Homo sapiens: one gene and its partners. The protein of the gene in region 1 purifies or fractionates together with the protein of each later gene. This does not show direct contact. Each region holds a gene or a part of one and is shown in the gene's direction. Other genes may lie near its edges. The genes, in order: TOMM34, WDR12, EPS8L1, ZFAND5 and TARS1.

Evidence for each region.
Region 2: the proteins of TOMM34 (region 1) and WDR12 fractionate together in Homo sapiens (co-fractionation; one large-scale study listed by BioGRID). This does not show direct contact.
Region 3: the proteins of TOMM34 (region 1) and EPS8L1 fractionate together in Homo sapiens (co-fractionation; one large-scale study listed by BioGRID). This does not show direct contact.
Region 4: the proteins of TOMM34 (region 1) and ZFAND5 fractionate together in Homo sapiens (co-fractionation; one large-scale study listed by BioGRID). This does not show direct contact.
Region 5: the proteins of TOMM34 (region 1) and TARS1 fractionate together in Homo sapiens (co-fractionation; one large-scale study listed by BioGRID). This does not show direct contact.

The regions. Positions count from the first base shown.
Region 1 is NC_000020.11:44,945,807-44,951,711, reverse strand, and holds part of TOMM34 (mitochondrial import receptor subunit TOM34), read left to right. Parts: intron 1-2,834; coding exon 2,835-2,982; intron 2,983-5,905. UniProt on the Homo sapiens protein: Plays a role in the import of cytosolically synthesized preproteins into mitochondria. Binds the mature portion of precursor proteins. Interacts with cellular components, and possesses weak ATPase activity.
Region 2 is NC_000002.12:202,896,860-202,902,764, reverse strand, and holds part of WDR12 (ribosome biogenesis protein WDR12), read left to right. Parts: intron 1-1,645; coding exon 1,646-1,740; intron 1,741-3,127; coding exon 3,128-3,234; intron 3,235-5,349; coding exon 5,350-5,465; intron 5,466-5,905.
Region 3 is NC_000019.10:55,077,876-55,083,780, forward strand, and holds part of EPS8L1 (epidermal growth factor receptor kinase substrate 8-like protein 1), read left to right. Parts: intron 1-212; coding exon 213-253; intron 254-1,123; coding exon 1,124-1,182; intron 1,183-1,814; coding exon 1,815-1,976; intron 1,977-2,253; coding exon 2,254-2,403; intron 2,404-2,505; exon of another isoform or gene 2,506-2,618; coding exon of another isoform or gene 2,619-2,666; intron 2,667-2,896; coding exon 2,897-2,979; intron 2,980-3,355; coding exon 3,356-3,617; intron 3,618-3,897; coding exon 3,898-4,024; intron 4,025-4,216; coding exon 4,217-4,305; intron 4,306-4,399; coding exon 4,400-4,474; intron 4,475-4,578; coding exon 4,579-4,727; intron 4,728-5,502; coding exon 5,503-5,644; coding exon of another isoform or gene 5,645-5,740; coding exon 5,741-5,769; intron 5,770-5,891; coding exon of another isoform or gene 5,892-5,905. UniProt on the Homo sapiens protein: Stimulates guanine exchange activity of SOS1. May play a role in membrane ruffling and remodeling of the actin cytoskeleton.
Region 4 is NC_000009.12:72,357,563-72,363,467, reverse strand, and holds part of ZFAND5 (AN1-type zinc finger protein 5), read left to right. Parts: intron 1-2,680; 5' UTR 2,681-2,689; coding exon 2,690-2,840; intron 2,841-3,246; coding exon 3,247-3,358; intron 3,359-3,946; coding exon 3,947-4,050; intron 4,051-5,905. UniProt on the Homo sapiens protein: Involved in protein degradation via the ubiquitin-proteasome system. May act by anchoring ubiquitinated proteins to the proteasome. Plays a role in ubiquitin-mediated protein degradation during muscle atrophy.
Region 5 is NC_000005.10:33,446,623-33,452,527, forward strand, and holds part of TARS1 (threonine--tRNA ligase 1, cytoplasmic), read left to right. Parts: intron 1-21; exon of another isoform or gene 22-142; intron 143-1,918; coding exon 1,919-2,109; intron 2,110-5,718; coding exon of another isoform or gene 5,719-5,817; intron 5,818-5,905. UniProt on the Homo sapiens protein: Catalyzes the attachment of threonine to tRNA(Thr) in a two-step reaction: threonine is first activated by ATP to form Thr-AMP and then transferred to the acceptor end of tRNA(Thr).

The DNA.
Region 1 (5,905 bases):
AAAACAAAATACAAGTCTTCACCTCTTAGAGACTGTTTTCTCAGCTGTATAGTGAGGGTGATGATAAAGTCTTCCTCACAACCATGAGGACTGAATGACATAAGACATGTAAAACTCCCAGCCTGGCACATAGGCATGCAGTGTGAGTTCCCTTCTCTTTCCTCTGGTAGCACTTGGGATGTAGTACTTAGGATGTTTTTGGTTGCAAAAACAGAAAGCTCAACATGGTAAACATAGTATAGGGAATTTATTGGCTCATAAAACTGAAAAATCCGAGAGAATTCAGGCAAGGTTTGCTCCAGCAGCTCAGTATATTAACAGACTAACTCCATTTTTCTGTACTTATCACAGCTTTATTTTCTGTTGTGCGTCAGCTTTGTCTTTGGCAAGCTTCCCTCCTAGTAGCAAAATAGCTATAGCAGTTCCCGGCCTCACATCCATACCCCATGCCTCATGACCCAGAGAAAGAAAGTCTTTCTCTGATAGCTCACTAGGAAAAGATAGGATTTTTTTCCCCCAAAAAACTCTAGCTCACATATTTTCTCAATCATTTTCTCAATCTATTCTGGTCTTCATGGTCACAGGCCATTCCCTGAAGTACACACCATAACCGGCGGATGAGATTTTGTGATTAGGTCACCCTGAGGCACCTGCCCCACCTCCAGAACTAGAGGGTGATGCTTCCCAGGAGCATGTACACTGTGTGAATCCCTGGAGAAGCATGAAGAAGAGAAAGGAGATCCAAGCAGCCAAAAACAGGAGATTCCTCACCTCAACTGTATGAAATGAAGAGGCCATTTGTCAGGCACTAGGAAGCTCTTTTAATGCTCCAGGGGAATGGTCCCAGCCCAGCAAGCTAGGGATTCAGGCTAGAGGTGCAGAAGGGATCAGAGATGGAGCCCTGCCATGTGTAAGTGACCTATAGGTGTTAGGGGAGGACAAGAGTTACTCACCTTCTACAGGAGAATGCCTCTCTGGTCATGGGTAGCATTCACTCTGGTTTGTGGGAGCCTGGTAAGTGTTCCCCACTCTTCTCTAGGATGAAAATGTGCGGTGCTAATGAACCTGATGGCATCAGTGCCATTGATTTCATTCTTTCAATCAGTGCACCTACCATTGATTTCATTCTTTAAATCAGTGCACCTACCATTGATTTCATTCTTTCAGGGTCACTGAGCCATGTGTTCCAAGCCATGTGTATGCTAAGCAGTGTGACACAGAGGACAGTCTTGGCCCTCAGGGAACTCTCCCTCAGTTGAGGGACTGAGACATGTAAACAGTGTCTTAAAACACAAGGAGGAGGAACATGTGCTTTAGAGTCTTAGTGTTTGAGGACTTCAGGATAGAAACTGACTTAAGTGCATGAGGGAGTCGGGGAAAGACTCAGAAGGGGTGGCAATGGAGGTGGAGCCTTGAGCTGGACCTTGAAGAAGGTCATCAGGTGGGAAGGAAGGAGAATCCTTGGCAGAGACAGTGGAGAGAGTTGGAGAATGAAAGTGCATGGGGGGAACAGTAGGAATAAGGATGACTGCAGAGTGGTGTGTTGCAGGGTGCCAGTGAAGCTGAAGCCCTACTTCAAGAGAAACCTGTGTGCATGTGCACAGGGAGATGTACCCACAAATGTTCGTAGAAGACTGTAATAGCAAAAAACAACTGGAGATAACCCAGATCTCCATAAATGGGAGAATGGACAATTCAGCTTTGGTATTGCAGCAATGAAAATGAAGGAGCTGCAGGTCTGTGCATCAACACAGATGAATCTCAGAAATATAACATTAAGGGGAAAAAGAAAAACCAAGTCATAAAAGAATACACAGACTTATTCTTCTGTATGAAGTTCAAAAACAAAGTAAACAGCAAATGATCTGTGGGTACTGTTGTATATAGTTATACTGTTTAAAAAGGTGGGGAAGAAGCACAGAATTGGGGATAATAGTTTCCTCCAGCAGTGGATTGAATTGAGGAAGGTCCCCCAGGACTTCAAAGGTCCTAGTTATGTTCTTTTTCTTAAACCAGGCAATGAATTCAGGGTGTAAACCTATAATCTTACCCTGGTCATAAATATTTAGTATTTTATAAAGATAGTTTTAAAAATTTTTGAAAAGCAGATGATATGGAGCTGAGGCTGGAATAATTAATTGGGGCCAAGCAGTGAAGGGCCTGAACACCAAGTTGAGCAGCTTGGATTTCACCATGTTCCCTCTGCTTCCTCTCCTTGAAGGCTGGAGCAGAGCTGCATGTGTTAGATGAGGGAGGATACTCACAGGCTCAGCCCAAACCAGAAATGAGGAATAGCAGGCTCTTCTCCCCTTTTCTCATAGCCCAGAAGCTATACCTTTTCTTTACCAGATATTTGTTTATTAGTATTTATTTACTTATTGTCCTGCTTTAAGTTTATAGTGTGTTCCGTACTTTCTTACATACTCTCAGATTTGACCCTGAAAATAGCCATCTGTGGAATTAGTATTGCCCTATTTTATTGGTGAGGAAATTGAGGTCCAAAAGTTAGGTAGGTCACACAAGATCTTCCAGCTACCAAGAGGCAGTGCCAAGGCTAGAACCTGGGTTGCTTTTTATCATTTATATATTTTTATGTGCATGCAAAAATGTTTTTATATCAGGATTCCCCAACTTCTTGATGAAAAACTGTTGAATTGCCCAGAAGCTATTAATTGGGGGAAGTCATTAATCAGGAAGGATGATTTACAGCAGGGGAGGAAATCTCTGGGAGAGAGGATTGTAGTCAGTTTGGAAGGGACGATGCTGAAGAGACCTCACTGATCTCAGTTGGGTGCTGCTCCATGGTTTTTTTCCTCTTCTGAATTTGTATCTAGTGCCTTCTGCTGGGGATGTGGAGAAAGCCAGAGTTCTGAAGGAAGAAGGCAATGAGCTTGTAAAGAAGGGAAACCATAAGAAAGCTATTGAGAAGTACAGTGAAAGCCTCTTGTGTAGTAACCTGGAATCTGCCACGTACAGCAACAGGTATCTCCTATACAGCTGCTGGCCTGGGGCATTTCAGGACATTTGTTCCATAGTCTTCTCTTGGACTGCAATGGGCCCTTCATCCCTAGCATTTAGTCAAGTATGTTATGGCTGAAAACATGCATCCACGTTGTGAGCTAGCCATGACCAGTGGCATTCATTCTCTCAAAAGGGTAGAAACTGAGGGATGCCAAATGGTAGCCTGGGCTTTGTTGGCCCCTGTCCCCAGAATTTTCATAAGCATGCAATGTAACTAAAAGCAGTGTGCCTGCTCTGCAAACACAACCCTAACACAAGTCTCTTAGCCTGTCCACCCCACCACGCTACGCTGCTCCCTACCCTTCTCCAAGACCCTCCTGTTAGAAATTCTGGCACCATTTCTGTCTGAGAGTACTGGCCCAGAAGCCAAAATGTGAAGTAACCATTGCCTGGCATGAGAGCAGGAAGGATGGGTACAGTCTAGCCTGAAAGGTTAGACTTGTGGGCCTGTAGAAAGTCCTGCACCAGGAGCTGCCGTCAGTGACCACTGACTGAGAACCTGGGAGCCAGGGTGCGGTCCCTTCACTGTGTAGGAGTGATTGTTCTCCAACAATGCTCGTATAGGTGGTCTTTCTGTTTTAGTGTTTAGAAAATTGAGGCTCAGAGAAGGAAGGGTTTTGCTTTAAACTCAGCCAGCCAGTAAATGTTGGCACAAGAATTGGAATCTGACTTCAACAAGATCTTCCTGTTACTTTTACTCTCAGAAGCTTGAAACATTCAGCAAGAGACCATATCAAAACCAAATGCTTAGTATAAAACATTATAAAATGTTAGAAATCTGTTTATCCTTCCCTACCAGCATACACATATCACTCTCTAGTTCAAAAATCTTGGATCTAATATAGACACATTGTTCCTTATTCCAAACTCTTGAGATAAAATGTGTTTTCCAGCCACGGTGGCTCAATGCCTGTAATCCCAACACTTTGGGAGGCTGAGGCTCCGGGAGGATCACTTGAGGTCAGGAGTTTGAGACCAGCCTGGCCAACACGGCAAAACCCCATCTCTACTAAAAATACAAAAAATCAGCTGGGCGCTGTGGCACATGCCTGTGATCTCAGCTACTCAGGAGGCTGAGGCAGGAGAATCACTTGAACCCAGGAGGCAGAGGTTACAGTGAGCCAAGATTGTGCCACTGCACTCCAGCCTGGGTGACAGAGCGAGACTCTGTCACAAAAAAAAAAGAAGTGTTTTCCATTTTAGTGAGGTAATATGGTCTGAATTATGTAACACCCCAGCAGTGTCTGGGGCAGCTTGCAGAAGTTAATTATTAGTATTTCTGCCAGTGAAACTTGAAAATTCCATGTTCACATGGGGTGGAATAGAGAAACTAAATAGCTTCATGTCAGTTCAGATCAGGTTTTGCTGCCCAATGAGTTGGAAAGAGAACTTGTAGTTTTAAAGCTTATATTTTGGAATTTTGCACCTGTGGTTTTATGTGGTTTTATTGCTGATTGGACCAGAGGGGCCACAATTTGCCAGGCTAATTTGAAAAAGAAGCCTGCAGCCTATTTGTTCCATATTTGTGTGGCATCTTCTAACTCCTCTATCTCTGGACCCTCTTTCACATTGCTTACCTTATGCTGCTGGACACCTCCATTAACTCATTTTTCTGGATCATTACCATATTTGGAGCTGTGTTTTGTCTTGTTTAGATACTGTTCTTCATGCAGGTGTCTGTGCCACACTGTTTTAATTGCTTTTGCTTTATAATATCTTATAGGGCTGGTCTTTTCTTCATTCTTCTTAATCAGAGCATTCCTAGTATTTTCCCATGTTTGTTCTTCTAGCTAAAGCTTCGGATCATTTTGGCAAATTCCAAAAAATGTCTTGTTGGACAGCTTTTGGTTGTGATTGCATTGGATTTATAATTTAATCTAGAGGACTAATGACAAAACAACTTTCAGCCATTGTGGCTAACATTTTATCATGTCCTGGAACGTCTTGGACATAGTCTAATGCTCCACCTCATGTACGCCCATCTGAATGACACAATGCCCAGGCTTTGGCTTACTTTGGCTCCCTTTGTGCAGGTGACATCTGAGTGCATAGCACCTACAACTTGCCAGCCCTGAAACAGCTGTCATAAGAATCTCACTTGTACTCACAACAGTTCTTCAGCTTAGATCATTGTCCTGTGTTACCTAATCAGGCTCAGAAAGATGAATTAGTGACCACAAAGTTAAACAACTAGTACATGGTGGCTGAGATTTAAGCCAGATCTTTGTGACTCCAAAGCTTATTTCCCTTTCACTCACTTGTGTTATTTCCCAACCCCTTTGTAATTAAAACCCTTCTGACTGGATACAGTTACTTCATTTACCAAAAGTCAAGGGGGTTTATTTTATTGCCTGAAGTTATGCATTTTGTTCATCTTAAATATAGTCTTTAGAAGTCTCACATGACCCTATTAATCACATTTCTATTCTGAAGTCACGATACACGGTGGTTCCTCTGCTTCCCAGACACTTGGCTATTTCTTTAAATTGCCAAGCCCATTGGGAGGAAACTTTAATTTCCTTAGAATTCCTCTATGTTTAGAGGTGGCTCATGCCTGTAATCCCAGCACTTTGGGAGGCTGAGGTGGGCAGATTGCTTGAGGTTAGGAGTTTGAGACCAGGCTGGCCAACATGGTGAAACCCCATCTCTACCAAAAAATACAAAAGTTAGCTGGGCATGGTGGCATGCACCTGTAATCCCAGCTACTCGGGAGGCTGAAGTAGGAGAATCGCTTGAACCCAGGAGGCGGAGGTTGCAGTGAGCTGTTATCATGCCACTGCACTCCAGCCTGGGTGACAGAGTGAGACCCTGTCTCCAAAAAAAAAAAGGAATTCTTCTGTGTTCAAAGTTTAAAACGGGCTACTATTCTAAAACTTGGTGATTT
Region 2 (5,905 bases), on another chromosome or scaffold:
TACGATAGGCTGTCTGCAAGATGAGGAGCAAGGAGGCCAGTCCGAGTCCCAAAACCTCAAAAGTAGGGAAGCCGGCAGTACAGCCTTCAGTCTATGGCCAAACACCTGAGAATCCCTGGCAAACCACTGGTCCAAGAATCCAAAAGCTGTAGAACTTGGAGTTCAATGTTTGAGGGCAGGAAGCACAGGAGTAAGATAAAGGCCTGAAGACTGATCCAGTCTAGTCCTTCCACATTCCTCTGCCTCCTTTTATCCTAGCCATGCTGGCAGCTGATTAGATGGTACCTACCCAGATAGAGGGTAGGTCTGCCTCTTCCATTCCACTGTCTCAAATGTTCATCTCGTTTGGCATCACCTTCACAGACACACCCAGGAACAATACTTTGCATCCTTCAATCCAATCAAGTTGACACTCAGTGTTAACCATCACAGTGTATTACATTGATTTGTGTATGTTGAACTATTCTTGCATCCCTGGGATAAATCTTACTTGGTCATGATGATCTTCTTAATGTGTTGTTGAATTTGGTTTGCAAGTATTTTGTTGAGGAAAGAATTATTCCTGTAAGAGAAGCTTTGCAATTCCAGTATGTTACCCAAATAGTTGGGTAACATTTTTCTAAACATATAGACCGAACATTATTCCTTCTGTATAGACTGTTACCATATTGCAACTCTGAAAGAAATGAATGTAAGTACAGTATTGGTTCTCAATAGCTGTTAATCCCGATAATTAGGTAAAAGACTGACAAGGAGCATTATGGTGGATAGAATCAGACTGATATAATCCAAGCCCTATGATGGGTCTTAATATCTTAAAAAGAGACACAACCAGAACCTATTTACATCCTGATGGGATGTAACAGGAAATAGACAATACTGCCTGTGAATATTCTTGTCAAAAAAAACCCAAAAAACCCTGAAATCTAACCAGGCATTTACCATTTACCTCTGACTAGTTTATAGGATATTTGTGTGATAAAGAAGCATGTTAAAGGACACCTTGGAGATGGAGTCAACAAAACCCAGAATGTTACAAAACAGATGACCCACTTTCATCAACAAATACATGGCAAGGAGAAAAAGGAGGAGGAACTGTTAAAGATTAAAAGAAACATTAATCAAATATAATGTATGGATTATGGATGCTGATTTTTGAAAGCTCACTGTAAAAGAACATTGACTATTTGATGTTAGAAGGAGTGATTGTTAAATTTTAAAATATTGTGACAAATTTTTGAAGTCCTTATATTTTAGAGATACATACTAAAGTATTTACAGATGAAATGATATAATTTCTGAGATTTGCTTTAAAATAAACCAGCCGGGGAATGGAGGGTGGAATATAGATGATGTCCCATTAGTTGGTGGATGTCAAAATGGGCAATAGTGATGAGATTCATTGTTATTTCTACTTTTGTGTATGTTTGAAATAATAAAAGTTTTCTAAACCAAAATAATTACACCAACAACAGTAAAAAGACATTATACTAACAGAACAAAGTATTTCTGATCTTAAAAATCACAGAGAAACTCAGGCCACACTGGGATAATAGGTACCTGTTTGTTTTGGGAGTTCTCATATACCTCTGCCAATATTACTTTAGACACTAAGAGTGATAATTTTGTTATGTATTTTCCTCAGAGTTCCACAAACATGTGGAGTTTGATTTCCTTATTAAGGGCCAGTTTCTGCGAATGCCCTTGGACAAACACATGGAAATGGAGAACATCTCATCAGTAAGTTCAAATTCTTATCTTCTGTATTTCACTTGAGGCATTATCGGCTATTGTAGGTAAACTCCTTTTAGAATCACACTGAATCTATCTTTAGTAGCAAAGATTCTTTTTAATATATTGGCTATATATGTTGTGTGTGTTATGTATTGTGTGTATATTTTATGTGTGTATTGAATATATATAGTGTGTGTGTATATATATATGTATATTCCTGTATATTCAATTTTGAAGCCCTCTTTTTTTGTGAGAGTGTTTTATTCAAGAAATAAATGAACACATTCTTTATATTTGTGGAAGAACTGGCAAGAAAGGGAATAGCAAATATGTGTGTACAAATACTGGTGCACAAAATAACTGGGCAAATATAAAAACTATGGGTTAAGTTACTGTTATTTTTCCCTTTTATTTTCAAAGTTTCCTTATATTGCTTTTATGATTAAAAATATAACTTATAATTGTTGCTTGTTTTGTGATTTTAAAAATTGTGGTAAAATATACATAACATAAAATTTAGAATTTTAACCATTTTTAAGTATACAATTCAGTGGCATTAAGTGCCTTTGCAGTATTATGCAACCATCACCATTTTCCAGAATTGTTTCCTTATCCTAAACAGAAGACCTGTACCCATTAAACAATGTGCTTTTTTTCTTAATTTTAATGTTTTCTTTTATCTTCTTTTTTTTTTTTTTTTCTGAGACAGAGTCTCCATCTGTTGCCCAGGCTGGAGTGCAATGGCACAGTCTTGGCTCACTGAAACCTCTACCTCCTGGGTACAAATGATTCTTGCGCCTCAGCCTCCAAAGTAGTGGGATTGCAGGCATCTGCCACCACGCCTGGCTAATTTTTGTATCTTCAGTAGAGACAGAGTTTCACCATGTTGGCCAGGCACATCTTGAACTCCTGATCTTAGGTGATCCACCCGTCTCGGCCTCCCAAAGTGCTGGGGTTATGGGTGTGAGCCACTGCACCTGGCCTAAGGCTTTCTTATATTCCTTTCCCCCCCATTTGCAGCATAAGTTGTACAAGGCGATTAATATTTCTTCTTTTTAAAATTTTTGTTAGGAGACAGGGTCTTGCTTTGTTGCCTGGGCTGGACTTGAACTCCTAGGCTGAAGCAGTCCTCCTGCCCCAGCTTTCCTAATGTTAATAGCTGGGACTACAGGTGTGAGTCACCATGCCAAGCTATTATTTCCTAATATCACTCTTAGCTTACAGTTAGGTCAAATAAAGTTCTTGACTTTTTGAATGGCTCCAAATTTGCTGAGTTATAAAGGGGACTAATATGAAGGATATAAAGGAGATATATTAAATTGGGGGTTATCTTCATAATGTAATATTTTAAAACTAGACCACCTGACTTGTTGCTGGTTTCTCTTGTGATTAGGAAGAAGTTGTGGAAATAGAATACGTGGAGAAGTATACTGCACCCCAGCCAGAGCAATGCATGTTCCATGATGACTGGATCAGTTCAATTAAAGGGGCAGAGGAATGGTATTGCCAGATTAATGCCCTTCTCTTTTTTTTGTTTTGTTTTTACCTCCTTCAGTCTTTTTAAATCCATATATACATATTTTTCTGTGATTTAATGTTATTTGTAAATTAATTTTGTGATCTCTGTATCAGTGGCCATGGCAAACAGAAAGATCTTTTCATTCAGTGTCTTCAAGAAGAAACAGGTGGCTGGGTGCAGTGGCTCATGCCTGTAATCCCAGCACTTTGGGAGGCCGAGGAGGGTGGATTACGAGGTTGGGAGATCGAGACCATCCTGGCTAACATGGTGAAACCCTGTCTCTACTAAAAAAGTACAAAAAATTAGCCGGGCGTGGTGGTGGGCGCCTGTAGTCCCCGCTACTTGGGAGGCTGAGGCAGGAGAATGGCGTGAACCTGGGAGGTGGAGCTTGCAGTGAGCTGAGATGGCCCCACTGCACTCAAGCCTGGGCAACAGAATGAGACTCTGTCTCAAAAAAAAAAAAAAAAAAAAAAAAAAAACCACAGGTATTTATTAATAGGTACTCTTTTTCTGTTCTGTTCAATATGTGGTAGTAACAATTATTGTTGCCTTTTTTTTTTTTTTTTTAAACGGGGTCTCTCTCTCTTGCCCAGGCTGGTCGCAAACTCCTGGGCTCAAGCAGTCCTCCTGCCTCAGCCTCCTGAATAGGTGGGATTTCTCTACACCCAGCAATATTTGTCTTCTGAATAAGTCATGTATCTTAGAGCATTTAATTTATTTGGTTCGATTATGTTGCTTTTAAGACCAAGGATATAGTTTGTTTCATAAAGGAAAAAAGTAACTTTTATAGCCATAGATCTCCTGGCCTAATACCTTAAAGATGCATAGCATACTATTTTAGGGCTAGAAGGAGCAGACTGGACTCAGCAAAGAAGGTACAGATATCTTAGGGCAAATCCTCACTGGCCTTACTTGTAGGAAAACAACTCAAGAGTAGATTATGGTAGGAGCTTCTTTCAAAGAATGCCTTCTTGGAGTTATTACATAAAGTTATATTTCTCCTAGTTTTACTTTTAGTTTAAATGGTTTTCACTGGTTAAGTACAAAATACTTCAGGTGGACAGCCAGGCGCGTGGCTCACGCCTGTAATCACAGCACTTTGGGAGCCTAAGGCAGGTGGATCACTTGAGATCAGAAGTTTGAGACCAGCCTGGCCAAAATATTGAAACCTGTCTCTACCAAAAATATAAAAAATTAGCCAGGTATGGCGGTCTGTGCCCATAGTCCCAGTTACTCGGGAGGCTGAGGCAGGAGAATCACTTGAACCCAGGAGGCAGAGGTTGCAGTGAGCTGAGATCGCGCCACTGCCTTCCAGCCTGGGCAACAGAGCAAGACTCCATCTCAAAAAGAAAAAAGAGTACTACAGGTTGGGTATTCCTTATCTGGAAATGTTTGGTACCAGAAGTATTTTGGATGTAGGATTTTTTTTGGGTGGGGGTGGTTTTGGAATATTAACATATACATAGTGAAATATTTTAGGGATGTGATCCAAGTCTAAACATGAAATTCATTTATGTTTCATATACAGCTTATACACCTAGCCTGAAAGTAATTTTATACTATGTATATATATGATATATATTTTTTATATATATATATATATTTTTTTTTTTTTTTTTTTTTGAAACGGAGTCTCGCTCTGTCACCCAGGCTGGTGTGCAGTGGCGCAATCTCGGCTCACTGCAAGCTCTGCCTCCTGGGTTCACGCCATTCTCCTGCCCCAGCCTCCTGAGTAGCTGAGACTACAGGCACCCGCCACCATGCCTGGCTAATTTTTTGTATTTTTAGTAGAGACAGGGTTTCACTGTGTTAGCCAGAATGGTCTCGATCTCCTGACCTCGTGATCCGCCTGCCTCAGCCTCCCAAAGTGCTGGGATTACAGGCGTGAGCCACCACGCCCAGCCATGCCAGGTATTATTTTTAGGAGGTTGAGAAACGTCAAGTGATCTGATCTAGTATGGCTTGAAATCTCAATCTTCATATCAAAAAAGAGTTTAAAAGTATAATCCTCAAAGTTACTTTGTCATTGCCAAAGAAACATTTCAGGGTTTGGAAAAACTGCTTTTTGTGTTTCATAAGATTTTTTTTTCTCATAGGATCTTGACTGGTTCTTATGATAAGACTTCTCGGATCTGGTCCTTGGAAGGAAAGTCAATAATGACAATTGTGGGACATACGGATGTTGTAAAAGATGTGGCCTGGGTGAAAAAAGGTTAGGACAGTTTGCCTACACTTAGAGGAATCCTAGATAGGGATTTGGAAATAAGCCATTTTTGGTGCTGGGGAAGAATGGGGAGTGGGTGGGAAGTATCTCATACCTCAGTTATTATGAGGTCTTTCAAAAAATACAGTGTTCAAGAAGAAAAAGATTATATAAAAAATTCATAAATTGTTAGAAGTGTATCTTTATTAAAATTACATCAGATAATATACATTTTCAAGTTAATATTGAATGTATTACATTCATCTTTTATTTTCTTCTGTTTTTGTTTGTTTGTTTTGTTTTGTTTTGTTTTGTTTTGTTTTTGAGATAGTCTCGCTGTGTCACCCAGGCTAGCGTGCAGTGGCATGATCTCGGCTCACTGCAACATCCACTTCCCAGGTTCAAGCGATTCTCCTGCCTCAGCCTCTCGAGTAGCTGGGACTACAGGC
Region 3 (5,905 bases), on another chromosome or scaffold:
CGCGCCCAGCCTACCTGTCTTCTTAAAGTCCAGCTCTGGCTCTGAGCTCTCCTGCTCAATAATAATAATAATAATAATAATAATAATAATAATAATAACCCTTCCATCGCTCCCCATTACCTTCGTCATGAAGCCCTTGCTGCCCTGCTTGGCATTTCCACAGGATCTGCCCCCAGTCCCACAGTCTCTCTCATTCCTCTTTTCTTCACCAGCCCAGAAGCTGCCCCAAAGCCAAGCGCCAAGTCTATCTATGGTGAGCGGGGGGCAAGGGAGCCCCAGGCCCATAGAACTGGGTCTAAAGAAACAGGACCTGGCATCCAGGGTCTTGGAGGAGGAGGGGCTGGGGGTCTGGACTCCTGAGTCAGAGGGAAGAGGTGCTGGGGGTCTGGACTCCTGGGTCAGAGGGAAGAGGGGCTGGGGGGCTGGACTCCTAGGTTTGAGGGAGGAGGGGCTGGGGGCCTGGACTCCTGAGTCAGAGGGAAGAGGTGCTGGGGGCCTGGACTCCTGGGTCAGAGGGAAGAGGGGCTGGGGGGCTGGACTCCTGGGTCAGAGGGAAGAGGGGCTGGGGGGCTGGACTCCTGGGTCAGAGGGAAGAGGGGCTGGGGGGCTGGACTCCTGGGTCAGAGGGAAGAGGGGCTGGGGGGCTGGACTCCTGGGTCAGAGGGAAGAGGGGCTGGGGGGCTGGACTCCTGGGTCAGAGGGAAGAGGGGCTGGGGGTCTGGACTCCTGAGTCAGAGGGAAGAGGGGCTGGGGGGCTGGACTCCTGGGTCAGAGGGAAGAGGGGCTGGGGGCCTGGACTCCTGGGTCAGAGGGAAGAGGGGCTGGGGGCCTGGACTCCTGGGTCAGAGGGAAGAGGGGCTGGGGGTCTGGACTCCTGGGTCAGAGGGAGGAGGGGCTGGGGGGCTGGACTCCTGGGTCAGAGGGAAGAGGGGCTGGGGGCCTGGACTCCTGGGTTTGAGGGAGGAGGGGCTGGGGGCCTGGACTCCTGGGTCAGAGGGAAGAGGGGCTGGGGGGCTGGACTCCTAGGTTTGAGGGAGGAGGGGCTGGGGGCCTGGACTCCTGGGTCTGATGGAGGAGGGGCTGGGCCTGGACTCCCAGGCTCATTCTCTTTCTCCCCTGGCAGAGCAGAGGAAGCGTTACTCCACAGTTGTTATGGCTGATGTATCCCAGTACCCAGTCAATGTGAGTCTGGGGTCTGTGTTCCCCCAGGACATCTTCTGGGGCAAAGGTGGCCTCAGGAGATAGGGCTTTTGAAAGCAGCTAGGCCCCCAAGCAGGAAGCATGTGGAAAGTCAGTTTGCCCATCCATAAAATGGACCTCCGTTGCCTCACCTCAGTCATGGATATGAAGCCAGGGGCCTCGGGTCCACTTAATCTGCCAGCCTTTCCTCCAGGCCAGCTGTTGTGCTGGACAGTGGGACCACGGAGGCAAATCAAGACACAGCCCTGCATGAGGAAGGGGTAGACAAGGTCCAGAGGAATCCACAGAGGCGCCTGGTGCTCTAATGGAGGTGGCAGGGGGCATGGCAGGAGACCCGAGGAGGCATTTAGAAGGAGAGAGCTATAATCCAGACTCCTTCCCTGCCCGCAAGGAGCCTCCAGTCTGTGAGAAGCCAGACTCAGGTGCTAGTCACTCTGATGAAAGGGAAACAAAGGGCACTGGGAGGAGGAGCTGATTTGTGGAACAGGTGATCAAGGAAGGCTTCCTGGAGGAGGTGTGGTTAGTCTCAGGCTGAAAGTCTGATTATTCTGGGGGATTCTGAGCCCACCTGGCATCATCTTGGGCCTCACTGCTTTCTCCATGGTCCGTACCAGCACCTGGTGACGTTCTGCCTGGGTGAGGACGATGGCGTGCATACCGTGGAGGATGCCTCCAGGAAGTTGGCCGTCATGGATAGCCAGGGCCGAGTCTGGGCACAGGAGATGCTGCTGCGAGTGTCTCCCGACCATGTCACGCTGCTCGACCCGGCCTCCAAGGTGCCGGGGGGCACGTGGGTGGGAGGAGTGTCTGGGGCAGGGACTTCAGGGGGTCTGGGTGTGAATCTTGGCTCCTGCACGTCCTTCCTCTGGGAACTCTGGCGAGGGACCCCAGCCCCCTTCTTGAGCCTTAATAGCCTCATCTATTAAACAGGGCTGTTATCCCTAACCCCCTAACCGCCTGAGGTTGCCCTGACCTGCTGGCCCACACTCCCGTCGCCATTTAGTAGTACCATCATTTCGGGGCCTCAGTTTACCCCGCCATCCCACCCGGCAGGAGGAGCTGGAGTCGTACCCACTGGGCGCCATCGTGCGCTGTGACGCGGTGATGCCACCCGGCAGGAGCCGCTCGTTGCTGCTGCTCGTGTGCCAGGAACCCGAGCGCGCGCAGCCCGACGTGCACTTCTTCCAGGGCCTGCGCCTCGGGGTGAGCAGATGGGCTGGCTCTGGGGGTGGAGCTGGAACTGGGCGGAGCCTGGAGCCGGGGCGGAAATGGGTGGGGCCTCTAGGTGGGGCGGGGCCTGGGGCTAAGGCGGGATCAGAGCAAGGAAGGGCAGGGGACCTGGGAAGGAAGTTCTGGAAGGCAGTGGGGTTTGAGATTGGACCCAGGGTCAAGATAGAACATGAAGGTGGGATGAGGACATGAACAGAACATGGCCAAGAAGGATCTGGGGGAGCAGCCAGGACGAGGTGGGGGCGAGGAACCACCCGGACTGGGTCTCCATGGGCGGGGTCGTGGCTTAGGGCAGGGACAGGTGTAGGGCGAGGGGTGAGTTCGGGGCGTGGACGTGCGTGGGTTCACAGGTGTGAACGGTAGCCGCACGTGGGCTGGGACTGAGCTGAAAAATCGGCCAGGGGCGAGGCCCGGGTAGGAAGTGGGTGCGGCGTGGGGAGGCGTGGCCTGACGGTGTGATTGGCAGGCGGAGCTGATCCGAGAGGACATCCAGGGGGCTCTGCACAATTACCGCTCGGGCCGCGGGGAGCGCAGGGCGGCGGCGCTCAGGTGAGAGGGAAGAAGTTGGCAGGGTCTCTGGGAAGCCGGTTTCCCCTCCTTGTGCCTCAGTCTACAACACCAGCCTGGAACAGAACAAGAGTTTTGCATGGAGTCAAGCACACCCTAGTCGAGTCTTGTCTGTACCTCCCAGACGAGCTGACCCCTTCTCCAGAACTCTGCTTCTTTTCTCTGTTCCCTGTCCAGGCCCTCAGTTTCACTCTAGAGAGGTGCTATCCCTCCGTATATCGGATTTCTCCCTACCTCGTTGAACTTGTTCACTCCCTTTGAGCCTTTTGAGCCTGTGTGTCTCGTTCTGCGCCCTGGATTTCCCCCTCCCTGGACCCCTCAGTGGACCCAGTCTTGGTGTCCCCGTCGCCCTCCGCAGGGCCACGCAGGAGGAGTTGCAGCGCGACCGCTCGCCCGCCGCTGAGACCCCGCCCCTGCAGCGCCGCCCGTCAGTCCGCGCAGTGATCAGCACCGTAGAGCGGGGCGCGGGCCGCGGACGACCCCAGGCGAAGCCCATTCCCGAGGCAGAGGAGGCGCAGAGGCCTGAGCCGGTGGGGACCTCGAGCAACGCTGACTCGGCCTCCCCGGACCTGGGTCCCCGGGGTCCTGACCTGGCGGTTCTGCAGGCGGAGCGGGAAGTGGTGAGCCGCTAAGGAAGGGGTCTGGGGGCAGGGCCAGGCGACTGGAGGCGGGGCTAGGGCGTGGAAGGGCGGGGCCGGCTGCGGGACGGGCGTTCTCTGGTCAGACTTCTGCGTTATGGAAGAGGGGCTGGGTCGGGGGCGGGGCTTGGTTGTGGGGCGTGGCCAGGTGTTTGGGGCGTGGCCTGATCTGGGGAAGTGTATAGGTGCTCAGGTTCAGGGCTTCGACGGGGATGGTTTTGGAACTCGGGAGCCCTGAGCGTCCCCCTCCTCTGTCCCCTAGGACATCCTGAACCACGTGTTCGACGACGTAGAGAGCTTTGTATCGAGGCTGCAGAAGTCGGCGGAGGCGGCCAGGGTGCTGGAGCACCGGGAACGCGGCCGCAGGAGCCGGCGCCGGGCGGCTGGGGGTAAGGGGCACCCTGGCGTGGGATCTGAACCCCCTCCCGATCTCTTCCAAATGTCCCCGCTCTCCCCAGGCTCTCCCCTCCCGCCACTTGCCAGGGCTGACCTCACCGCCATCTTAACCGGGTGTCCACCTCTCTCTGCCTGCCTGGTGCTGGCCCCGCGTCCCCATCGCCGCGCCCGTCTGCTCCCCTCAGAGGGCTTGCTGACGCTGCGGGCCAAGCCGCCCTCGGAGGCCGAGTACACCGACGTGCTGCAGAAGATCAAGTACGCCTTCAGCCTGCTGGTGAGGACGCGCCCGCCCCTGGGCCGGGGCGCGGGCACGACGAACCTGTCCCGTCCCCGCACCCACGCCAACCACCTCCCTCCCCACGCCCCAGGCCCGGCTGCGCGGCAACATCGCCGACCCCTCCTCTCCGGAGCTGTTGCACTTCCTTTTCGGGCCTCTGCAGATGGTGAGACCCGCCCCAGGCCCTCGGGCCCCCCTGCAGCGGGAGGAATCGGGTTCGACTTGTAGAAGGTGTGGCGGCACAGCCTGCCCCTCCTGCTCCCCTGACAGATTGTGAACACGTCGGGGGGGCCGGAGTTCGCGAGCAGTGTGCGGCGGCCGCATCTGACATCGGATGCCGTGGCGCTGCTGCGGGACAACGTCACTCCACGTGAAAACGAGCTCTGGACCTCGCTGGGGGACTCGTGGACCCGCCCCGGGTGAGGGGCGGGGCTGGGAGGCAGGGGGCATGGTGATTGGAGGAGCATAAGGCGCTGGGAGGTGGGTGGCATGATGATTGGAAAATAGGACTAGGAGAGTAGGGAGGGGTTAGAGGCGTGGCTTAGTTGTGTTGGGGCGGGGCTTAGGACAGATGCCAAGATTCAATTGGAGGAAAGGCCAGGAATTAACGTGAAGGAAAGATTTAAGACCACCAGACCAATCGGATTGAAAGAAAAGGGGGGCTTAAAGGAATAGAGGGGCTAGGGGCTACGGGGCAGGGGCGGGGCTACGCGAAGGGGCGGGGCTTCTGGAAGGTTTGGTCTATAACTTTGGTGATGGGACAGAGTCTGTGCACTGCGGGCTGGCAGTTCCGCAGGGAAAGGGTCAGAACCTGAAACCGACCTTACGGAAAACCTGATTTGGAATCAGGTGAGATTTAGAGGCTGGATAAGGCAATTTTTTTCCAGAGAGAGAGATGGATGGGGTCTCAATATTTTGCCCAGGCTGGTCTGGAACTCCTGGCCTCAAGCGATCCTCCCATCTTGGCCTCCCAAAATGCTGGGATTACAGGCGTGAGCCACCGTGCCCGGTCTAGAAATATAAATTGCTGTTGAGTTGGGCTTAGAGCTACCGGCAGGACTTGGTGAAAAGTGGCGGGGCTAGAATCGTTGGAATACAGCGAGCTTTAGGGGAAAACTTAGTGAAGTTAATGCAGGAACGAAGTTGGGGGCTGTATCAGGATCCCTGAGCTCTTGGCCCTGTCCCTGGCCGCAGGCTGGAGCTGTCCCCGGAGGAGGGACCCCCATACAGACCCGAGTTCTTCAGCGGCTGGGAGCCGCCGGTCACTGACCCGCAGAGCCGCGCCTGGGAGGACCCAGTTGAGAAACAGCTACAGCACGAGCGGAGGCGCCGGCAGGTGACCCAAGCGACACAGCAGGGCCGAGGCTGGGAAGTCCGGGGGCGCGGCCGGTCCGCCTGGCCCCGCCTGACCCGACTGTCTTACTTCCTACAGCAAAGCGCCCCCCAGGTCGCTGTCAATGGGTGAGTGTCCGCCCCAGGGCAGGGCAAGGGGGTCAAGGAGGGGTGCGTCCCGGGGGCTCCCGATGCTGACTCCGCCCCCTTTTTTTCTGTGTTTTTCCTTCTGTCTTCCTGGCTCTTCTCAGGTGGGTGAGATGGT
Region 4 (5,905 bases), on another chromosome or scaffold:
GAGTGGGAATTCATGCCATCTCATCACATCATGTGCACCTGAAAGAACTGTATTCCATAGGTGTAAAAGCTCTTTGTTCAGAATTGGAATTGGAGAATTGTTCAGTTACACTCGGGTGTTTTTTTAAGCTGTAAGTTAGAGGAAGCCATAAACTTTATAAAATCTGCATTCTAGCTATACCTGATAGAGCTGACACGTGCATGCTCAAGTTGCTAATTACTTTAAAGGCAATAAATAGTAATGGTATTTTTTTCTAAAATACAAGGGGAATGCAATACCTAATGGGAACACACATCCCCCACTTCATCCCCTAAATCCTCACTAAATGAGGATTCTTTTTTACACTGTCTCCACTGTGCTTAGTTTTTTATCAACAACCTTGACCATTTTAGCTTTGACTATGCTTTCATCTTCTAGATTGAGATTGTTCTGTAGTTTTTCCTACATTAGGAAAAAACTAGCAGCCCTTTTTTTGTTTTCTTATGTTAGATATATGAACGCTGCATCCTTAGTTCTTGGGGTTGTGTAGGAGTTGGCAGGCTTTGAGATATAAATAGAAGCTGATTTCAGAGGCCCCTGTTGACTAGGCTTTATGTGAGAGCCTCCATCCAGCTCAGCTTGTCACATTGCAGCCTTGTGACAGGCTGAAGCGCCCTCCCATGTGATCTGAGCTTCTGAGAAATATTAAAGCAAGCTGTGCACATGTGATGGCATTTAAAAGCTGGCTTTCTAGGGGAAAAAAATCTAAAAGATGGGAACCCATGTAGAAGACTCATGTCCTGGTACCTCTTGTGTGTCTCGCAGTTGAAAGTTATTTATAATGAAATGAAGGTAGACATGTTCTCTGAAGCAAAGTTGGAATACTTTGTTATCTCTGAGTGTGTGAAATCTTTAGATGGAGTATCCTCCATTTTATCTAAAACAAATATTTTAAGAATCAGATTAACTAAAATTACTTAGGTAGGTTGATCGCTTGGCCTTAAACTTTAAAGCCAATGTCACATGAGACTGGGCCTCAGTGTAGAAAATGTAAGCTAGCATACTTAAACTGGTTTTAAGGAGTGACCCAACTTTCATGCATAGGGCAAACATTCACACATATTTTGTGCGTGGTGGGCATGCAAATACATACATATTTATCATTTGAAAGCATTTTTTGCTCCTATTATGCTCATTTAAAAACCCAGCTGAAAGTGTTTATTAATAAACTTCCTAAGTGATGTTGAAATGTTTACACTACCCTGCTCCAAAATGAGTCAGCTAAATTCCAGTTAATATTTAAAGAGACAGTGTCAACTAAATTAATACTGTTGTTAAAAGTAAGTTGTGGATCTTGGTCACTCCACACAAGCTAGATTGTCTTAATATTTGTATGGTGCACTTTTACTTACAAAAGGGAAGATAAAATGTTTTGGGGAATAATTACCAGGGGTCTGGCCAGGTCAAAATTGGTTAGTCCCCTTCTCCCATCTTCTAATTTTGGTAGTTAATACTTGTTAAAACATCGTTTTTTAATAACTCACTAAAAAGTGTATTCTAGTATGTAGTTGGAAAAAATGACTGACCACAAGTTACAGCACACGAATTTTCCTTTAAGCAAATGCTCTCAAATATGCTTTTTGTACATATGCTTATACATGTTTAAGATGACATGAAAACCCTCCACAACTTTATTTTAAAATAATTTTTCTTTAATATGTATTTTCTCATCCAGAGGAAAACTTATTAATAATTTAGCACAGCGTTTTAACAAGACTTTTAGAAAAGCAAATCTTCCTTGGAAACAAATGCTTGCTATGTAAAGCTTTTTCTGGTAACCCAGCATTGAATATTAACCATTACTAAAGGTTATGTGTATATATTGACTTTAATACATTGAATTTGAGCTTGGAACGGTTTTATTATTTTCTGGTATGAGGAAGACAAGCACTTGTTAAAATTAATAGTGCCTTTGGCTGAGAAATCTGGTTCATAATTTGTGTATTGCAGGTTCCTAGGCACTGGCTTTGACATACTCTGAAACTTCAAATGGAGAACGTAAAAGGAGTTTCGTAAACCAGCTGACCCTAAATTCTTAGAGATTTACTTGTTGGTGCCAGGGTAGCAGGAAGGGCTACCAGTTCTCTTTTCAGCCTTATATGAAGATGTTTCAGCATTAAAAAGTACAGATGCTCTGCCTCAGCAGATTTGTCAAATTACTGATGAAGCCCAGATATGTACAGGTGTTTTAAGAAAACTTTATTCATCCAGTTTAAAGAACTACCTATAAATATCAAGACTCAGTGATAATTGTGATTAGCCAATTAAGTAAAAACATTTGAAATGGTCTGCCTGTAGTGCAGCAGAGTGAAAAGTTAAAGATACCAGTTTCCCAAATTGATTAAAACATAACCCTGAGAGCTAACAGACCTTTTCATAAATTGAAACCAAGAATAGTGATAGGTAAAAATACCCTAATAATTGATAAAATTTCTTTTTGGGTTTTTTTTTGGTCCTAAAACAGTTTGCTTTTATAAAGGCAACAAAATATTGATAATTATCTCTGCCCACCCTTTTTAATGATTAACGGAATTTGGGCTTTTGTTAAAACTTGCGTAGCAATTACAACGGTATACCGATGATTATATTAGACTATATTTTGGTGATAACACTAATTTCTGAAATTTCGTTTCATCTATAGCAGAAAAATATGGCTCAGGAGACTAACCAGACCCCGGGGCCCATGCTGTGTAGCACAGGATGTGGCTTTTATGGAAATCCTAGGACAAATGGAATGTGTTCAGTTTGCTACAAAGAACATCTTCAGAGGCAGCAAAATAGTGGCAGAATGAGCCCAATGGGTAAGTTATTTCCAAGGAAAAACACATTTGAAAGAACTGGTGGACAGAAATACAGAACCAAGAATTGGGGCTGAGAATGCTGAAAGCACATGGAGAGAACACCTGATAAGAGCTTGAAATTCAAGCAACAGCCCAAGTGCTTGACATGACTGATCAGGAATGAATGACTATCTACAAGCATCTTATAGCTTTTCAGTTTTCTTTTTTGGGGTTATTTTGTTTCACACTTGTGTTCATTGGATTGACTTTTTAATATTTTTTGTTTGGATACTCAAGTATAGGATTACAGCACAGTGAATGCTTATATCACTAACCTAATTAAATGCAAGTATTTATTACTACGTCTTGATACTAAGTGAGTTTTTGTAGTGTTCATTGGTTCCTTACAAATCCTTTTTTTAAATAGGAACAGCTAGTGGTTCCAACAGTCCTACCTCAGATTCTGCATCTGTACAGAGAGCAGACACTAGCTTAAACAACTGTGAAGGTGCTGCTGGCAGCACATCTGAAAAATCAAGGTAAGATTGAACGTTTCAGAGTTTTTATGATATTACAAAGAAGAAATCAAGATGTCTGTACTGGTCCAATAATAAGTTAATAGATACCCTTGGCTTTGCAATCGAGGATTTCAGTGTCTTTTAATACATGACTCTTAAGTCATTGAGTAAAGATGTGTGTTACTTACACCTGACTCCCTAACCCCCTCAAGGATACTGTGTTGGAAATGCTGTGCTTTTTTATTTCTTTGTAATTGAGGTTTAGGGATTGTCGAGTGAGACTGTAGAATATTATTGGGCCAGACAAGGTGTTTTGGCAGAGCTGCCCTTTTGCCCTTAAACAAGTTACAGGCACAGCTAAAAATCCCTAGCTGGTTGTAAAATATGGTAACCTATACAAAATGCAGCCTCGAGTTCATGAGCCATTTATCAAACTTTTTTCTCAACCATTTGTGCTGGGCATCCAATTTTTTTTTAAACTTTAGATTATCTAGCTCCATTTGCTCATTTTGGAAATATTCTATAATTTAAAGTTGAACTGACAACTTATTCATTGTCTCAAGAAGTACCCTTAACACCTTTAAAAATTGTTTGCTTGAACTCAAATAGAAATGTGCCTGTGGCTGCCTTGCCTGTAACTCAGCAAATGACAGAAATGAGCATTTCAAGAGAGGACAAAATAACTACCCCGAAAACAGAGGTGTCAGAGCCAGGTATGTTTTTCATTTAATACTTGTTCAGTTCTGAATTTGATAGTGCAAGAAATGGCTGGTGGGGGGATTCTTTCCTTCCCATTGAAGGACCAAAGAGGAGGGAGAGCCATAAAATATAGGCCAAGCAAAGAACTACTATCTTTAAAAGTATCTTGAGTATGAGTATCTTGAAGTGTAAAATAGTCATATTTATTCTCAGTTTCTTCTCTGCTCATCCCCTGCACTACCCTTGTGCATAATGGGCAAAGTCTGTAATCTGGAGATTGGATGTGTTAAAAACTTGATGAAGTTAAATTTCAAGGGTATAAGGAATAATTTTATAACCAAAAGCAGTAACTTTAGTTTTGATATTGTCAATGTTGTGGAAAACTTTTAAGTAGAACAACATATTTGAACACTAGAACTTATTTGAAGTACAATATTCCTATCATATTTTGTGGGAGTTTGAAACTCAGTGTGGAAAGGCATTTTGGTTTTCATGAGATATGGTGACTTTGGAAACTTTGCTTATATAGCACAACCAGAAGTGCCCTGATGGTGGAAGAAGACTGACTTGAATTACCTGTACTAGGCCCTAGAACAAAAAGATTTCTGTGCTTTATATAGTGCACGTAGCTTATTTTATCAATTTGTTCTTTTTTGGCAGAGTGCTGATTAAATGCAATATAAAACTTCTGTTGTGAAAAAATACTGTCAGTGGTTATACAGTCTGCTTTGGAGGCTGGCTTTTGCTAACAGCAGTCAAGTTTGTTTATTGTATTAATCTTACAAAGTTAAGGCCAAATTCTCAAGTTTGGCAGGTGAATCTATATTTGGCATTTTGAAATGAGCTCCATCCTTAAACTGACCACATTAGTTTGCCCGTGATGCCTTTGTTTGGGTTTTTGTTTTTGGTTTTGGTTTTTAAATACAAAATTACTCTGACCTTGGAAGAATAGTCTTGGGTTAGAGCTAGTCTGCATTTATTATTACTTAGTAGGCATTCTGTGATTCACTGCTATTTGCCTTTTCTGTGTCATTTTCTTATTCCCCCTTCTTCCCTTGTCTCAGGAGCCGTAGTTCATTTTTCAGATGTGGCCAAAGAAATGGCTGACACCCTCCCTCTACCCCATACAACTATTCCCCTAGATTATTCTTTATCCTCATGACATCAGGATAAACATTAATGTTGTCACAGTAGCAGTAGGTAGAATATTGTTCGTTTAGTCTAATATTAGGCTATTTCTCCCAGTAGATTCATTGCTAATGCAATTGAATTATAAATTTGGGCAGAGTTTTAGAGAAAATTGCCATTAAATCAATCAGCTTGTTGTAGGAGCTTGTCTATATGCTAATAGCATTGGTGCTGGCATATTTGGGCAGTAATTTCAGCATTGCATACATAAATTTGCTATTGTTACATTTGGATTAATATTAAAACCTGAGTTTATAGTGTTTCAGGTGTAGTTGAATTATATGTAAGTAGATATAAATTTTGTTATTTTTGTGTTAAAGAACTAGTGGCAGTGTGGGCTTTAGTACAGTAATGTATTTTTTGTTCATTGTGAGAAATTTTATTGATGCCATGTGTACACTGAAACTTAAAGCCTTTTTAGGTGGAGAAACGGTGGGACTGTTTGTAGATGCTATCTCTGTCGATAGTGGATGCCCATTTTAGATAAGATTCTTGTTCTGCCTGTGGAATCCTTAATAGTTTAAAATCAATACTTCTCGAGTAGTTTCTAAAGACTGTTTGCCGATCTGTTTTTAAAACCAAGGTTTAAAAAAATCTTTCAAGTCTTCCTATGATGTTTAGTGCACCTGTGAAAATGGTAAAATGATTGTTTTGGAATTTTTGGATCTGACGTTGATTTAG
Region 5 (5,905 bases), on another chromosome or scaffold:
TATTCATCTCTGCAATCACAGAGACTGACACAGAGGGTATCTGCTGAATGAATGTTGAAGAGATTTTGACACGAAATTCTAATTGGGACATTGCAAGTGGCTATGATGATAAACTGCAGTTAAGATACAGAGGGTGGTGCAGGTGGGTAGGATTATAATGATGCTTTAGAGTGGATGGAACTGGGTACTGTGCATTAGTCTGAGGGGTTCAGATTATGGTTGTAGAATGACAGGCTCTGTCTGAGCTTTTAGTTAATTCATGGGTTCTTCACCATTGAAGGTTATGGACCGTTGTGATAATTTGATGAAAAGCTCTCAACAACTGAACGACTAAAGAAAGGGAGGGACTGCTGTGGGTGGGAATTACAAAGATATTAGGGCCTGATACGGTGGTAGGAACCAATCACTTGAGACTGAGTGGGAGAATCACTGGAGCCCAGGAGTTTGGGGCCAAAATGCGCTGTGACTGTGCCTGTGAATAGTCACTGCGCTCCAGCCAGCCTAGGCAACATAGTGAAACCCTGTCGTTAAAGAATGGAAAGAAGGAGGGAGGGAAGGAATTACTGGGCAGACAATTAATCTTTTTCATTTGATATTATTTTCTATTATCTCCAGTCAATTTTGTTTTGTTTTGTTTTGTTTGAGACAAGGTCTCACTCTGTTGCCCAGGTTGGAGTGCAGTGGCCCAATCTTGGCTCACTGCAACCTCCACCTCCCAGGTTCAAGCAATTCTTATGCCTCAGCCCCACAAGTAGCTGGGACTACAGGTGTGCGCCACCACACCTGGCTAATTTTTGTATTTTTAGTAGAGATAGGATTTTGCCATGTTGGCCAGGGTGGTATCGAACTCCTGGCCTCAAGTGATCCATCTGCCTTGGCCTCCCTAAGTGCTGGGATTACAGGAATGAACCACCATGCCCTGCCCCAGTCAGTTTCTTAAGGATTAGATATTCCCTTGTACTCCTTTCAAATTGTGGTATGTTGATATATATGGAGACATATGTATGGAGACGTTGGTAGCATTATCAACATTGAATAAATGTTAAAATCTGTATTGCAGTAAGTCATTTTATATCTGATAGATTGAAATTCATTTGAAGATAGAAAGTCATGGCAAAATTAAGCAATCTCCTCTTCACTTTTGTATGAAGTGTTAATGTTCATGTAATTTGAAGATGATGAATGCTGTAGATGTTAGTTTGACTGTTTTGTTACCACAGATTCACTGCCTTTTTGAAATGTTCCATAGATTATAGAGTGACAGTAGAAGAAGTCAGCTCTCTGATTGCTGTCTCTTTTTCTTTCTTTGCCAAACCTCTAGAAACCTAAGTGGGTGTTTTATATAGAATATTTTTGTTAATTTTATCTGCTATAGAAAGTAGTAGTGTGTTGTTTTATATAGTTGCTAATTACATACTCCAAGCTGATCATGGCATCTTTGAATTCAGTAAATACTTTCCTTGAAGGGGAGACCTTAAGTCAAAGAAATTTGTGATTGGTTGTGAGTGGACATATAGGCTGACCCGCTGCACAGACCATCACCTGGACATGAATGAAACAAAATAGAAAAGCCAGTTTATTGTTTTTATTTCCAGTATTGTTTATAGCTCTATTTGTAAAATAATTTAGTTAGAAAAGATCCTAAGAAGACATCTTAAAAGAGAAAAGACCACTTGCTGTAAATAGTAGCAAAATGGTAATTGTCGATTCAGCATAAGAATAGGGCATTTAATTCCTTCTTTTACCTTCATTTAGAACCAAATTGAGGTAATGCCGGGTGATTTTGGCAGTGTTTATTTACCACATTGAATCAATAGTCCTGGGTTTCTGTATTGTTTTTATTATTTCTTTCCCATTTCTAAATAGGAAAGCAATATTTACTGATCATTTATTTCCTGATTTGTTTGTTGTCTTGCAGTTGAATCCTTGGCCTGAATATATTTACACACGTCTTGAGATGTATAATATACTAAAAGCAGAACATGATTCCATTCTGGCAGAAAAGGCAGAAAAAGATAGCAAGCCAATTAAAGTCACTTTGCCTGATGGTAAACAGGTTGATGCGGAATCTTGGAAAACTACACCATATCAAATTGCCTGTGGAATTAGGTATAAGCTACACCCATCATGACCTTCCATAGTTTGTGGTCTAACTAAACTTCCTTTTATTATCTTGCCATGTTTTATTCTTATAATATTTTTATGTTACCATTCAGTGTTTTTAATCTGTTTAATTTTGCCTACTTGAGATTTTTTAAAAATCAAAATGATACAGAGCTTTGTAGTCAAAATTCAAAGTTAATTTCTGAAAGAGTTTACTTTGGTCTTATCTTTTGGGGCATTGTATATTTTTAGTCTTACTATGATTATAAATGTTACAAAACCGACTAGACAGTGTTTACCTATTTCGACTTAAATGTCTTGGTTTTGAAGTTAAAAATGAAGCTACATAATCTCACATGGAAAGGTTAAGAAACTTCATATAACACATGAAAAAAATGTACTATTTTTATAAATTCAATGAAAGACTATTCCTAGTCTTAAAACTTTTATTGGGGTGGGAAGAAGTTATTTCAATTAACTGAGAATTAGATGCATATTTTGTAATAGGGGAGAGGCTTTCTTAATCTGATATGATTGGGATCAATAATTGGTCAGTTTATCAAAATAAGAGTTGGTAAAACATATATATGTGTATATATATACGCGTATATATACACGTGTATATATATATATCTTAAACTGGGTATTGGGAAACTCTAGTCATAATCTGTTTGTGTATGTCCTGAAAGCGAAAAATAAAAATGATTCTTTTTTTCTTTCTTTTTTTTTTTTTTTTTTTTTTTTTGAGACAGAGTCTTGCTCTGTTGCCCAGGAGGCTAGAGTGCAGTGGCGCGATCTTGGCTCACTGCAAGCTCCACCTCCCAGGTTCACGCCATTCTCCTGCCTCAGCCTCCCGAGTAGCTGGGACTACAGGTGCCCGCCACCACGCCCGGCTAATTTTTTGTATTTTTAGTAGAGACGGGGTTTCACCGTGCTAGCCAGGATGGTCTCGATCTCCTGACCTTGTGATCCGTCCGCCTCGGCCTCCCAAAGTGCTGGGATTACAGGCGTGACCCACCGCGCCCAGCCAAAAATGATTCTTAAATTTTTAAATAGTTGGAAAAAATAAAACAACTAAGAATATACAACAGAGACCATGTTTGGCCTGCAAAGTGTAAAATATTTGTGTGGCCTTTTACAGAAAAAGCTTGCCAATCTTGGTCTTAAACACTTCAACTTAAAATATGTGAATATGTATGTATTCACTAACTTTATATACATACATAAAACAGTGAATATATATATGTATGGCAAGGTTTGGGGGATAGCGAGTGCTAATTAGAGTTCTTACATTATCTTAACACATACGAGAAGTAGTCTGAGCACAGAATCCTTGCAGATTTTCATGTAGTTGTAGAGTTACACCTAACTTGACAGTGTTTTTGTGTGTGTGACTTGGATTTATCAAGCCTTCTCAAACATTCAACTTGGTTTTCATAGAATCCATAATTCCCTTATTGTGTTATTTTATAATTATATATTTTTGAAGTTTATTTATAAGTGTTATGTATTGAATTGAACCATTTGGAATCACCATATGAATTGTCATGTGGTTGATTATCATCAATTTTGTATTGTTGAACCAAACACGTAAAAGAACAAGCACAAAAACAGTTTGGGGAACCAACGTGGCTGATTCTTGGTAAGCGTATTATACAACTAGTAGAAGCAGAACCAGTTAGGCCTATGAGCCATGAGCATCTACTGTACCACAGACATTAGTTAGTACTTTTTACAAAGTGAATGGAGTGTTTCCATTCATTTGACAAGTGCTTCTACCTACAAGTTCTTCTACCTTACTCCAAAGGAAGTAAAAAGTTGTAATACCATGCAAGTTTCTATGTGAGAGCATAGAGAACTGGATAGACCTTTACGTATCAGTTCAACCTTTCATTTTAGAGATAATTTTGAAGGTCAGGTTGATTAATAGATTCCTCTGTTGTCACACAATGAGATTGTAGCCGTGTCATTAAAATTTAGGCTTCTGTTAGTTTGGGAACTTTTTCCTCTACCTTCTACAATGTTGATCTAGATTACATTGTAATTTATCAAGTCTTCAGTTGAAAAATATTCTTCAAGAACTATAAAATTCTAAGTTGAATTACATAGCTGGGCGTGTTGGCTCACAGCTGTAATCCCAGCACTTTGAGAGGCCAAGGCAGGCAGATCACCTGAGGTCAGGAGTTCAAGACCAGCCTGGCCAACATGGCGAAACCCTGTCTCTACTAAAAATACAAAAATTAGCCAGTCATGGTGGCGCACACCTGTAGTCCCAACTACTTGGAGGCTGAGGTGGGAGGATAGCTTGAACTCGGGAGGTGGAGGTTGCAGTGAGCCAAGATTGAGCCACTGCACTCCAGCCTTGGTGACAGAGCGAGAGTCCGTCTCCAGGGAAAAAAATAAAAGGTTGAATTACATAAAACATTGATGGGCTTTAGCTCTGGAGTTAAGTCACTGATCTGCACTGAGAATACTTTATGAAATTTTTACAAAAGTCCAGAATAACTTTTTGTTCTGTGAAAAATTATAACATTGATAACAGGCTATTTAAAGATTCACATAATTAGTGGTGAATATGAAAGGGAAGGACAAAAAAGACATGTTCCATTTGCGTCAAAAGGTTTTTCTTTGAAGTTTTGTTATAAATCTTTTTTTTTTTTTTTTGAGACGGAGGAGTCTCGCTCTGTCGCCCAGGCTGGAGTGCATTGGCGCCATCTTGGCTCACTGCAAGCTCCGCTTCCTGGGTTGACGCCATTCTCCTGCCTCGGCCTCCTGAGTAGCTGGGATTACAGGCGCCCGCCACCACGCCTGCCTAATTTTTGTATTTTTAGTAGAGACGGGGTTTCACTGTGTTAGCCAGGATGGTCTTGATCTCCTGACCTCGTGATCCACCCGCCTCGGCCTCCCAAAGTGCTGGGATTACAGGCGTGAGCCACTGCGCCTGGCCGTTTTGTTACAAATCTTAAAGATTATTTTACCCTTCTTTGAAAAATTGAAATGATCCAGTATGGCCCATGTGTAATCTACATTTTCAGAGTAACTCTATTCTTAGAATCTTGGGGCTCCATATTGGATCATAAGATAAAAGTCATGTTCTTCCCAAAGAATATAGAGAATATGATTATCCTTTTTATCAGTTCTTTAATCTCCTGAAAACTGTTTTACACCAATATGATGAAATACATTTCTCTCTGCCAAATTCATGTTATGTTTTGTGAAATGCATGTATTTATTTTATTGACTCCATCTGATCTCAGGAGGAAAGAAAACATTGTTTATAACCTATGGTAAAGTTAGTAGGAGCATTGAAAATAGAAAGGAGTTTGTTGTTTACTTTCTGTTTGGTTCTTTTCTCTTGATCCTCAGATAGGAGTTGTATACATTTTGTTGTAAACCCTTAGACATAGAGAGCCACCAACACAGCAAGCCTGGCTAGCTTAAAGCCTTCTAGTGGTAGGTTTCTTTGAGATTTACAGTGTAAAGGGTGTATACTTTTTCTTCACAGTGTAGAATGTTGCCTACCTTCGTTGAGATGTCCAGGCTGTTATAGACTATTATTTCTCTAGCTGTGCATTTAGATGTATAATCTGGCTCACCTACTCAACTCTGCTCTAGTCACACAGCTTCCTGCAAAAACCTCTCTTCACTTGCATCTCTGCTTGCATCTGTGGCCATTCCCTCATCTGGAATGCCATGGCCTCCTCTTTTCTTCCTGTGAGTGCTTTATCCTCAAAGCCTTTCCAGATGACTCTGACCTGTACTGCTTTCCCTCCTCAGAACTCCTGTAGCTTTTACACTCTGT